Linked DNA regions of Homo sapiens: region 1 is linked to region 2. Evidence: fine-mapped expression QTL. A gene starts in region 2. The other region holds a variant in brackets. All regions are shown on one strand. Distances are from middle to middle.

The links. PIP is the estimated chance that this variant, and not a neighbour inherited with it, causes the effect. A credible set is the group of variants that fine-mapping cannot tell apart.
Region 1: its variant is the best candidate, but not a certain one, in a credible set for the expression of MGAT5 in whole blood (TOPMed, PIP 0.51).

What each region holds. Positions count from the first base shown.
Region 1 is chr2:134,229,828-134,234,827 of GRCh38, forward strand. It overlaps a transcript of MGAT5 not described here and the pseudogene RNA5SP104. Among named protein-coding and RNA genes, the nearest start is that of MGAT5, 22 kb to the right of the region's middle. The variant A/T (reference allele first, on the strand shown) is at 2,835.
Region 2 is chr2:134,251,905-134,256,904 of GRCh38, forward strand. It overlaps MGAT5 (alpha-1,6-mannosylglycoprotein 6-beta-N-acetylglucosaminyltransferase), which reads left to right and starts at 2,168. Exons shown (of 16, transcript NM_002410.5): 1 at 2,168-2,740. The coding sequence starts at 2,500.

The DNA.
Region 1 (5,000 bases), 22 kb before region 2:
CAGATGAGCCAATTAATAAATGAGCAAAGGATCTGAACAGATATTTCCCCCAAAAGAAAAACAAATAATCAGTAAGTACATGAAAAGATAAGATGCTCACTCTCTTTAGTCAGCAGGAAAATGGAAATCAAAACCACAATGAAATAGCACTTTACATCTGTTAGGATGGCTGTCATCAAAAAGACAGATGGGAAAGATGGGGGAAGTGAAGGATAGGGAGAGATTTACTAAAACAGCAGCCCCCAAACTTTTTGGCACCAGGGACTGGTTTCATGGCGGATAATTTTTCCACGGATGAAGGGGTTGTTTTGGGATGAAACTGTTCCACCTCAGATCATCAGGCATTAGATTCTCATAAGGAGTGTGCCACCTGGATCCCTCACATGCACAGTTCACAACAGGGTTTGTGCTCCTATGAGAATCTAATGCAACCGCTGATATGACAGGAGGTGGAGCTCAGGTGGTAATGCTCACTTGCTGGCTGCTTGCCTCCTGCTGTGTGGCCCAGTTCCTAACAGGCCAAGGACTGGTACTGGTCCACTGCCTGGGGGTTGGGGACCCCTGTGTTAAAGGATACCAAATTACAGCTAGATAGGTGAAATAAGTTCTAGTGTTTCATACCACTGTAGGATGACTATAGTTAGCCATGATATATAGTTTCAAATAGGATATTGAACCTTGCCAACACAAATTGTAAATGTTTGAGATGATGGCTATGCAATTACCCTAATCTGCTCTTTATACATTCTATGTATTAAAACATCACTATGTACCCCTTGACTATGTACAATTATTTGTCAATTTAAAAAATTGTTAAAGAGACAAATAAGTGTTGGCAAGAATATGGTGAAATTGGAACCTTCATACACTGGTGGTAGGAATGTAAAATGGTGTAGCTACTGTGGAAAACATTTTAGCAGTTCCTCAAAATGTTAAATACAGAGTTATCATATGACCCAGTAATTCTACTCGTAGGTATATACTCAAGGGGAATGAAAACACACACACACACACACACACCCATCAAGTCATACACAAACGCTCATAGCAGTTTTATTCATAATAGTATCAATTGATGAATAGATCAACAAAATGTGATGCATCTATTCAATGGAATATTGTTTGGCTGTAAACAAAATGAAGCACTGATATGTGCTACAACATTGGACCTTGTGAAAGAAAGCTGTCAAAGAACACTGCATATTATGATTCTATTTATATCAAGTGTCCAGAATAGGCATATCTATAGAGACACCAAAGTAGAATGAGTGCTTGCTTAGAGCTGGAGTGGGGAGGAGGAGGGGTTAGGAGGTGGTAGCTAAAGGGTGTGGGTTTCTTTTGGGTATGATAAAATGTTATATGAAATTCTCTACAGCCACACTACCTTGAATGTGTCCAATCTGTTCTGATATTGGAAGCTAAGCAGAGTTGAGCCTGGTTGGCACTTATATGGGAGAAAAGTTATAAAGCTGATTGTTGTAATGCTTGTACAACTCTGAGCCCAGTAAAAACCATTATATTGTATATTTTAAGTTGGTTAATTGTATGGTATGTGAATTATATTTCAGTAAACTGTTACAAAAAGGGTTTATAACCTAGACAAATAATTATCAAATAAACTGCATTCCTCTGTGGTGGGTGGTAAATGCTTCCTGTGTAGCAATGTACAAATTCCTATGTCAAGATCTTCATAGGCTGTCTTGATGTCTTCTCATGTGGAATTCTTCCTTTCACTTTGGAACACCATTTCTTAAAGAGATTATGGCAAAGTGAAATAATTAGTTGCTTGATTTATTGATGGATGATTTCCCTCATTCACCCTCTGGAGTTCTTTTAATAGAAATGTTAGAAACCCAGACCCTCTAGAACCTGTGGGGAGCAGCTTGGTTGAGTAGCTCTCTACCCACTGGAGGTATTTGGGGAAAGATCACTGGGTTTGTGGCTGGCTGTGAAAATGATCAGACCAGGGCGGGGCCAAGTGGCTGACATGGCTGAGTAGTGGCTGGTCCTTCTTGCCTGCTGTGCCGAGTTGTCTGTCCCCTGGTACTTTACACCCAGTGAGTTGAGGAAGAAGGAATTACCTCTCTAGACAAAGATCGTTCTGTCTGCAATATATGATATAGTACTATTGCTCTGTGGAAGCTTCAGGCAGCCATCCTCCCTCACAAACCAGCTCCTCCATTTTCCTGTCTTGGTGAATGACATGTCACCTTTTCCTCAGCTGCCCAAGCTGGAAGCCTAGTGGTCATTCTATACTCCTCCTCCTCCTCCTCGTCTTCCCTCATTCCTTCCAGTTAGTCATTGCCCACTGTCCTGCTGATTTGACCTCTTAAGTATTTCTAGCATTTGGTTTCTTATTATGACTGGACTGCCACTACCCTGTTCAGGCCTTTATTGGACTCATTTCTCACCCGGATTTTCATGAGCCACCCTTCAAACCCATCCTCTACACAGCAGCCAATATCAAATATGGTGGCCTCAGCACTGTTAAATGTCTTCAGTGATTTACCTGCCATTTGGTGGTGGTTCTTACTCAACAGGGGAGGAGTTTCAGATCATCTAGGAACCAGAACCCTTTTCAAAGTATTTAGGTGTATATCCTATTCTGGACCCATTAGCTGAAGAGGGGCCTTGGGAAAGGGCTTCTACATCTTGAAAAATCTCCCCAAACAGGATGATACCCAATAAGTAATGCTTAGAAAACAATTTATTTTGAAATAATTTCACAGGAAGTTGTAAAAACAGTACAAAGAGACCCACGGACCCATCCTTCCCCAGATTTCATGCTCTGTTACAATACCAAACCAGGAAGTTGATACTAACAGGTTACTGTT[A/T]ATAGACCACAGACCTATGTAATGTTTTTTTAATGCCCATTTTTCTTGTTAGGTTGGAGTGTGGCACTTCCTGCTAACCTGAGATGTTAGATTATTTCTTAACTGGTGCACATTTTCATTTAAGAATGGCATGGGTCTTCTTGATTCTGTGGGTGGTGGTTGTTATGGTGTGTTATGGTGTGTCTTCTTGTATGTACATGTGTGTGAGATATTGGTGGCAATTACCAGTTTTTCCTTGCAGAGTGAATTATATCCCCAAAGAGTTTGCCAAGAATACATTTGAGTAATGTAATTCTGTCTAGTGACCTAAGGTCATAACTTTCTTAAGTTAAAAAGTTAAAACTGCCACAACAGGTTTTATGCTAGAAGAATAGTATAGACATTGATTCTTCTTGAATCCAAGATTCAGTTAGCTTAAAATGATGTCATCGTGAGTTGTTTTCCAGGTATGTGTAAATCTGACTTTGTTTTTTGTAGATTGTAAAATATAAGGGTACAGGGCTGGTTCTGTGTTTTATTTTGTTTTCTGTACTTGTTTTATTCATAAGTCTAAAATATAGTGTCTACCAGGGAATGGCTCTATGCAATGAATCACAGTGTAGTTTTGCTTTGAGAGATGGGGTATTACTATGGGTCATAATGAATTCAGTGGAATGGATTTCAGACTTTTAGGTGCTGACCCAGAAAATTCTTTGAAGTAGCAATCTTTACCAATGCTAGGAATTGGGCTAGTCTGCTTTGCTTCCTCATCAAAACTGATGGACAAGATAGAAAATGCCTTTTTATCAGTTACAGTAACATTTTGCTGACACTTGGTGCATTTTTTTTATGTGTTTCACACAGATATGCTTACATCCTTTGAGAAAAGGAACTGAAGGGAAGAAAGAAAACCACAACTGCTTTAGAATAAAACTAGGTCAGCAAAGGCAGATCTTAATGTATTTAGATCAGGCAGAAGGCTAGGTCCTTCCACCTTACTCACAGAGGCCTCTGGGGCTCATTGTAGGAGTCATGAGACTTCTCCAGTAACTCTCATCAAGGATCGGTCACTAGACTAGGCCCTTTGCAAATTTAAACCCTGCAGGTAGACATTTTACAGATAAGGAAACTGGATCTTCATTTCTGTAACTTCAAGAGGGCACAGGGCTGGCTTATGTCAGTGCAGAGATTTTAATCTGAATCTAATTCCCAAGCCTCTCTGCCACACCAGATTGCCTCTCTATTCATGCACAACACTCTAGGTTTGACTCTGGCTCTCTTGAATAATTCCGAAGCAGACTTCTAAGAGAGGATTGCAAAGGCCAACTTCTTTCACAGCTGAGAAGCTGCCTTCTGAGGTGTATCTCTGAGTGGAGAAATCAGAACGCTAGATGCTATGTCCTTTCATGATGGGTAATAATCTCATTAGAGCAGGGAGACTTTGTGGTCTAAAGAGAGAAGGAAACAGTCAGTTGAAAGTTGCTCATGTGTTTCATTTTTCTGTGTTTCTCATACTTTGTTATTGATGTGATGAAGTAGTTGGGGGCTGAGAAGGAAGCCGGGGATTGGGGGCAGGGGTTGGTGGGAGTCAAGACTTACAGGTTCTTCCAAGAGACTCCTAGAGCAGTGATGCCTATAGTTTGCAAGGGCACCACCAGCAGCCATCTTTATTAACCAAGGGGGCTACAAGGACTTTTCCCAACAGATATTAAGTAGTTAGTTCACAGAAAGATTTGAATCTCTTCCTTCAAGAAGTTTGAGTCTCAACAGGGAGCAGATCATAAAGCTAAAAGTCAAATGTATGTATATATCAAGAATTATAAGACTATGGGGGTCCATACATAAGACACAGCAATGTGGCTCTGTCCTTCAACTAGGGTGACCAACGGGGACAAGTTTGTTCACCCTACCTTGACAGTCTTTGTGGCCCTGGGCAAGTCACTTAGGCTTTCTGGATTCTGAGGCCTGCTTCTCTCTCACCAGGTGCTTTTAAATTCCCTTCGTTTCTTGGGATTAGCAATAAGGTGTGACTAAGTCACAAGCTTGTGTTGGGTGGTGAATGAGGGCTGGAAGCCAGTGCTCAGAATCCTTTGAAAGTGATTAGCAGAAGTCAATATTTGAGAACAATACCAGCTGCTGTTTAGAAAGTCCAGAATAGTTGAGCAATTAGGATAAAGTAACAGACAC
Region 2 (5,000 bases):
CTCCCCACCCCTGGTAACCACTGTTCTGTTATCTCCTATGATAGCAACTTTTTAGCTTCTGCATGTGAGATTGTACGGTAGTTGCCTTTCTGTGCCTGGATTATTTCATTTAGCATAATGTCCTTCGGGTATATCCCTGTTGCTGCAAAAGACAGGATTTCTCTCTCTTTTTCTGGTTGAATAGTATTCCATTGTCAGAGAAGTGTTGTAAGACTAGGAAAGGAACACTGCAGGCTGGAGCCCTGGGGAAAGTGGTCTGAGGCAGGTGGTGGGACTAGAGCTGGGGTCTGGCAAACAGGCTGGGTTTGATTGTCAGCATAATAGAGAGCACTCATGTGCCAGCTGGGTGGGAGGAGCAGCCGAGTGAAGAAGGGGAAGCCTCTCAGGAAGCATGTGCAGGGTTTATGGTAATGAGCAGACCAGCAGGTACGTAGTGGGAGAGGGGTGTGATGGGGCAGAGGAACTTACGTTATGATAGTACAAGACAGAGGTTGAGCCTCATTTTAATAGGCATTGTGGTGGGTGTTGAATAGTGATGGAATGTATGGGTCTGGAATCAGGCTGCCTGGTCAAGGGCTCTGAAACATGAGTGTGCATCAGAATCACCTCGAGGCTTGTTAAAGGATAGGCTGTGGACCACATCTCCTCAGTTGCTGATTCAGTGGGTGTGGGTGGGGCCTGAGAATTCACATTTCTCACTGGTGATGCTGCTGTTACTGAGTTTGGGACCACATTTGGAGAACCACTGGTCTAGAATTGAGAGGTTGGCAAACCTTCTCTGTTAAGAGGTAGATAGTAAATATTTTAGGCCTTCTGGGCTACAAAGAGTATCTGTTACATATTTTTTATTGCTTTTCATGACCCATTAAGCATATATATATCATTCTCTGCCATATACAAACAGGCTGTTGGGGGAGTGAGGATGATGTAGGGAAGGTGGGGCATGGTTTAATAACCCCTGGGCCATGCCTAGATGATCAGTCCTCTGCCACATAGCTGGCTGACCTTTGCCAAGTTAATCACCTTTTACCTTTATTTTCTCATGTTTCTAATAAAACAGAGACGATAATATTCATACTTCTTACCATATAGAACTTCTGAGGATTCAGTGAGCAAAGCCACAAAAGATGGTATGTCACAATATCTGGGATATAGCTAGAATTTATAATTTATTTTTACTCTGTTGATAGGCAATGGGAAAACAGTAAGAGGCAGACCAACAGTGATCCAGGGCTCTGAAAGCTAATTGCTTCAAGATCCTGCTACCATTTTCTTTTGGGCCGCTTGCAAAGAAGAATCCTTTGACTGAAGCATGTATGTACACTCTGAAGTACAGCCTGGGTTAGTCTCTTATAAGGGATCGGATCATTGCTCAGCCTCTCCCTTGAGTGGCACTTAGAAAATGGCGCTATTCGTAAGCTGACTGGTATTGGGCCCAGGACTCTGGCTGAAGGGGTGGGCATGCTGGTAACCATTTGCAACCTATGCTCAGGTCCTACTTGTTGGGAAGCCCTGATTGAGAAGAGTGGCCTGGTCTGTGCTGGCATTAGATAGGATCTGGCTGCATTAATATTGAAACTACTCTGCCTTTTAATGTCTCATTTTGCCTCATGGTGGGAGTGAAAGTGAGAACCACAGAAAATCTGCCTGCCAGGTGTTCCACATTTCTTGTGCTACAGCATGCAAGTGAGCAGTGAGGTGTACCTTTTCCTCATGTAGCTGGGAAAGCAATACCCCTGCTTGTACCTCTGGCATATCTTCTCTGTGCTGGTGCACCTAGAGAGGTTGCCTGGTGGCCCTGAGAGAGCCATCTCATCACTAAACACTGATGGTGAAAGCTGGCCATGCTCAAATAAGATGTAGCAATCTACCTCTTCTTTGTCTAGTTACCCCCAAGGGGGCATCCACTTTCTTGCTCACCTCACCAGTTGCATGTTCTAGTCCTTGCCAGAAGCACATAATAATGACTTTGTAAGCTTAAGTTACAGGCACACAAAAGGGCCTGATGGTGATATGACTCCACCCTCCCCGTTTTTGCTGACATTCCGCCAAATATCCTTCTGTCTCCTCCCCACCTTGCAAAACAAACTTCCTGTTTTGAATTTGGTCCAGGCTGGAACAGCCCCACTACACCTGTTAACACACGCAGACGCACACTTCCCCCTTCATAATTGCTTAGCTTCTTGTTGCCTAGCCAGATTTCCCCTCAGCTTACAGTTCCTGAATCATAAGATATTGAACCAGCAAATTTAAGAGTTGACATTTTACTTAGAGGTATTCAAGTGAAAACATGGCTTCTGGTTTATTTTGCTGTATTGTGCCATGACCACTTGGCTAATTCTTCTCCTCCTTCACAGCAGAATGGAAGTGAGGAAAGGCAACCAGCTGACACAGGAGCCAGAGTGAGACCAGCAGACTCTCACACTCAACCTACACCATGAATTTGTGTCTATCTTCTACGCGTTAAGAGCCAAGGACAGGTGAAGTTGCCAGAGAGCAATGGCTCTCTTCACTCCGTGGAAGTTGTCCTCTCAGAAGCTGGGCTTTTTCCTGGTGACTTTTGGCTTCATTTGGGGTATGATGCTTCTGCACTTTACCATCCAGCAGCGAACTCAGCCTGAAAGCAGCTCCATGCTGCGCGAGCAGATCCTGGACCTCAGCAAAAGGTACATCAAGGCACTGGCAGAAGAAAACAGGAATGTGGTGGATGGGCCATACGCTGGAGTCATGACAGCTTATGGTAAGCACTGTTTCTGGGACCTCTCCATTAAAGTGTGCCTTGGCCTTGAAATGGCCCTAGAAGCTCCCAGATATGGTCTTGTCATGGACTGAATGTCCTTTGCCACTGCCTTCATAAGCAGTGAATTGCACACAGAGAGGCATCTTTAGGAAATTAAAGCAATGCCATTTTGGGGGTTCTGAGCTGGTGTATGCAGACACACTTTCCCCTGGAGTCAGTGGGTTAGTATAGTTAGGGCTCTATTGGTTGTGTTTGCAGCTAGCTCCTTCTCCCTGAACACATTTCAGGAACCATGTGATCTCATGTGGGAGTGAGTTCAGGGAATGCTGAAAAATATTCTCATCTTTCCCTAAACAAAACTTAATTAAGGCTGGTGGGGGTGAGGTGAAGAGGATGGGGAGGAATGTTCTATGGAAGCCAGTAAACTTAGAGCCAATTGTGTTCCTCCCTCCAGCCAATAAATATGACACTGGCACTTGCATGCTGGTGAGTTTTAACCTTTGGCTTCTTGAGGTTATGTTGCTCTTCTTCTTGCCCTTGTCTCTAACTGCCCTCACTTTGAAAGGAATCTTTGTGTACTTGTTGCTTTTTCTTTAAAGAATTTTTTTCAGAATTCTTTTTGAAATCAGAAAGAGTAAAAAAATACACATATGGGATGTAACTTATTTTTCTTTTATGTTTAATATAGAAAAAGTTGGAAGCTGTAGACAAGCAAAAAAAGAAAAAAATTACACATAAGTCTACTACTCCAGGCAATAACCACAATTAACATTTCAGTGTGTATTTTTCTGATACTTTGCATACACACACAAATATATATATACATATATATACATATATACATATATATACACATATATACACATATATATATACACACACATATATATATACATACACATACACACACAAATACTTGGAAAAAAATTGCAAATGGAATTTAGATCATGCTGTGTTTTGCAGAGCAGACTTGGTCTGTAGAAGATGACCTGTTGTTGAGTGACAAGAGTCTGATCATTGAATTGAGGTTTCAGTGGTCTCACTGAAGTGGTCTCCCTGATAGTATAGATGAGATGCAAGAATGGGGTTAGGTGAGGTGGAGAAAGTGGAGTTGTGTTTTGTGACCCACTCAAGGAAGGTGCCCTGAAGTATGCCGATTTCAAATCGTGATTCCCAAAAATGTGCAGCAACAGTTCAGTTCAGTGCAGGTTGAGTTCAGACACAGGAAATCATACTCAGTTATACATGTGCTTCTTTCTTTCCAAAAGGGGAAAAAAACTTGTTTTTAAAAAAGTATGTAAAATTTTATACACACGTATGTGTATGTGTGTGTGTGTATGTGTATATATTAGAAGATGCTTACTTCTGAGGAACATTTTAGAAATTCTTTTCTAGTTCTTACTATGTAAATAATCACACTCTGCATTTAATCTGTTAAAAGTGTCTGTAGGCATTGGCTTTTAATATATCTAAAAAAATGGTACCTTTTTTGAACTGATGGATTTAAAAAATGAGATTCCACTGTGGGAGCTTACACTGAAAAGTAACTAGGTAGTTTTTCCTAGAGTTGCATTTTAAAATTGCTCATTGACTCACATTTGTGTAACATTTCCAGAGTAGTTTAGATAAACCAACAGAAAATAAAGCTGATTGTCACCATTAGTGTTACCAATGTATATGACACAGCAGGTAACACAGGTGCAGTTTTAAAGTTTCTGGTTGTATGCATTTCATGTTACAGCTTTGAAGGGAAAGAGTTACAGCTCAGTGGTAATTTTCTCTTGTTTCTCTCAGTCTGTCAAACCTTTTCCATGGGCAAGAAGAAGCCCCACAAATAGCAAATTTATAGGCTTTAAATTTCTGCAGTTGTTTTGGCTGTTTGTATTTCTTGTGTATTGATGAAAATCTCATAGGGAAGGCTTCCCCACATTTTAAAGGACAATAATTTGGTCTTAGCTTTTCAGCCTCACAGAAATATTATTTTTTAAGTTACAAAAAAATCCCAGAATAGGCTGTTAGAATTTCAGCCACCTTATATGCCTGTAATCATAAGACTTTGCATCTCAAAGAAACTATAGAAATTATTTATTCCAACTTACTTTCGTAGATGAACCTTAGCAAAATAATTTGTCTTTTTCTCAAAAACAACAAAGAAACAATCAAACAGGTCACATCAGCAACTCTAACTGACACTGCTAGTTTTCTCTTTCATCGAATCAACTTTAACGTATCAAAGTGGTTTTGGGAGCTGAGTTTCTGG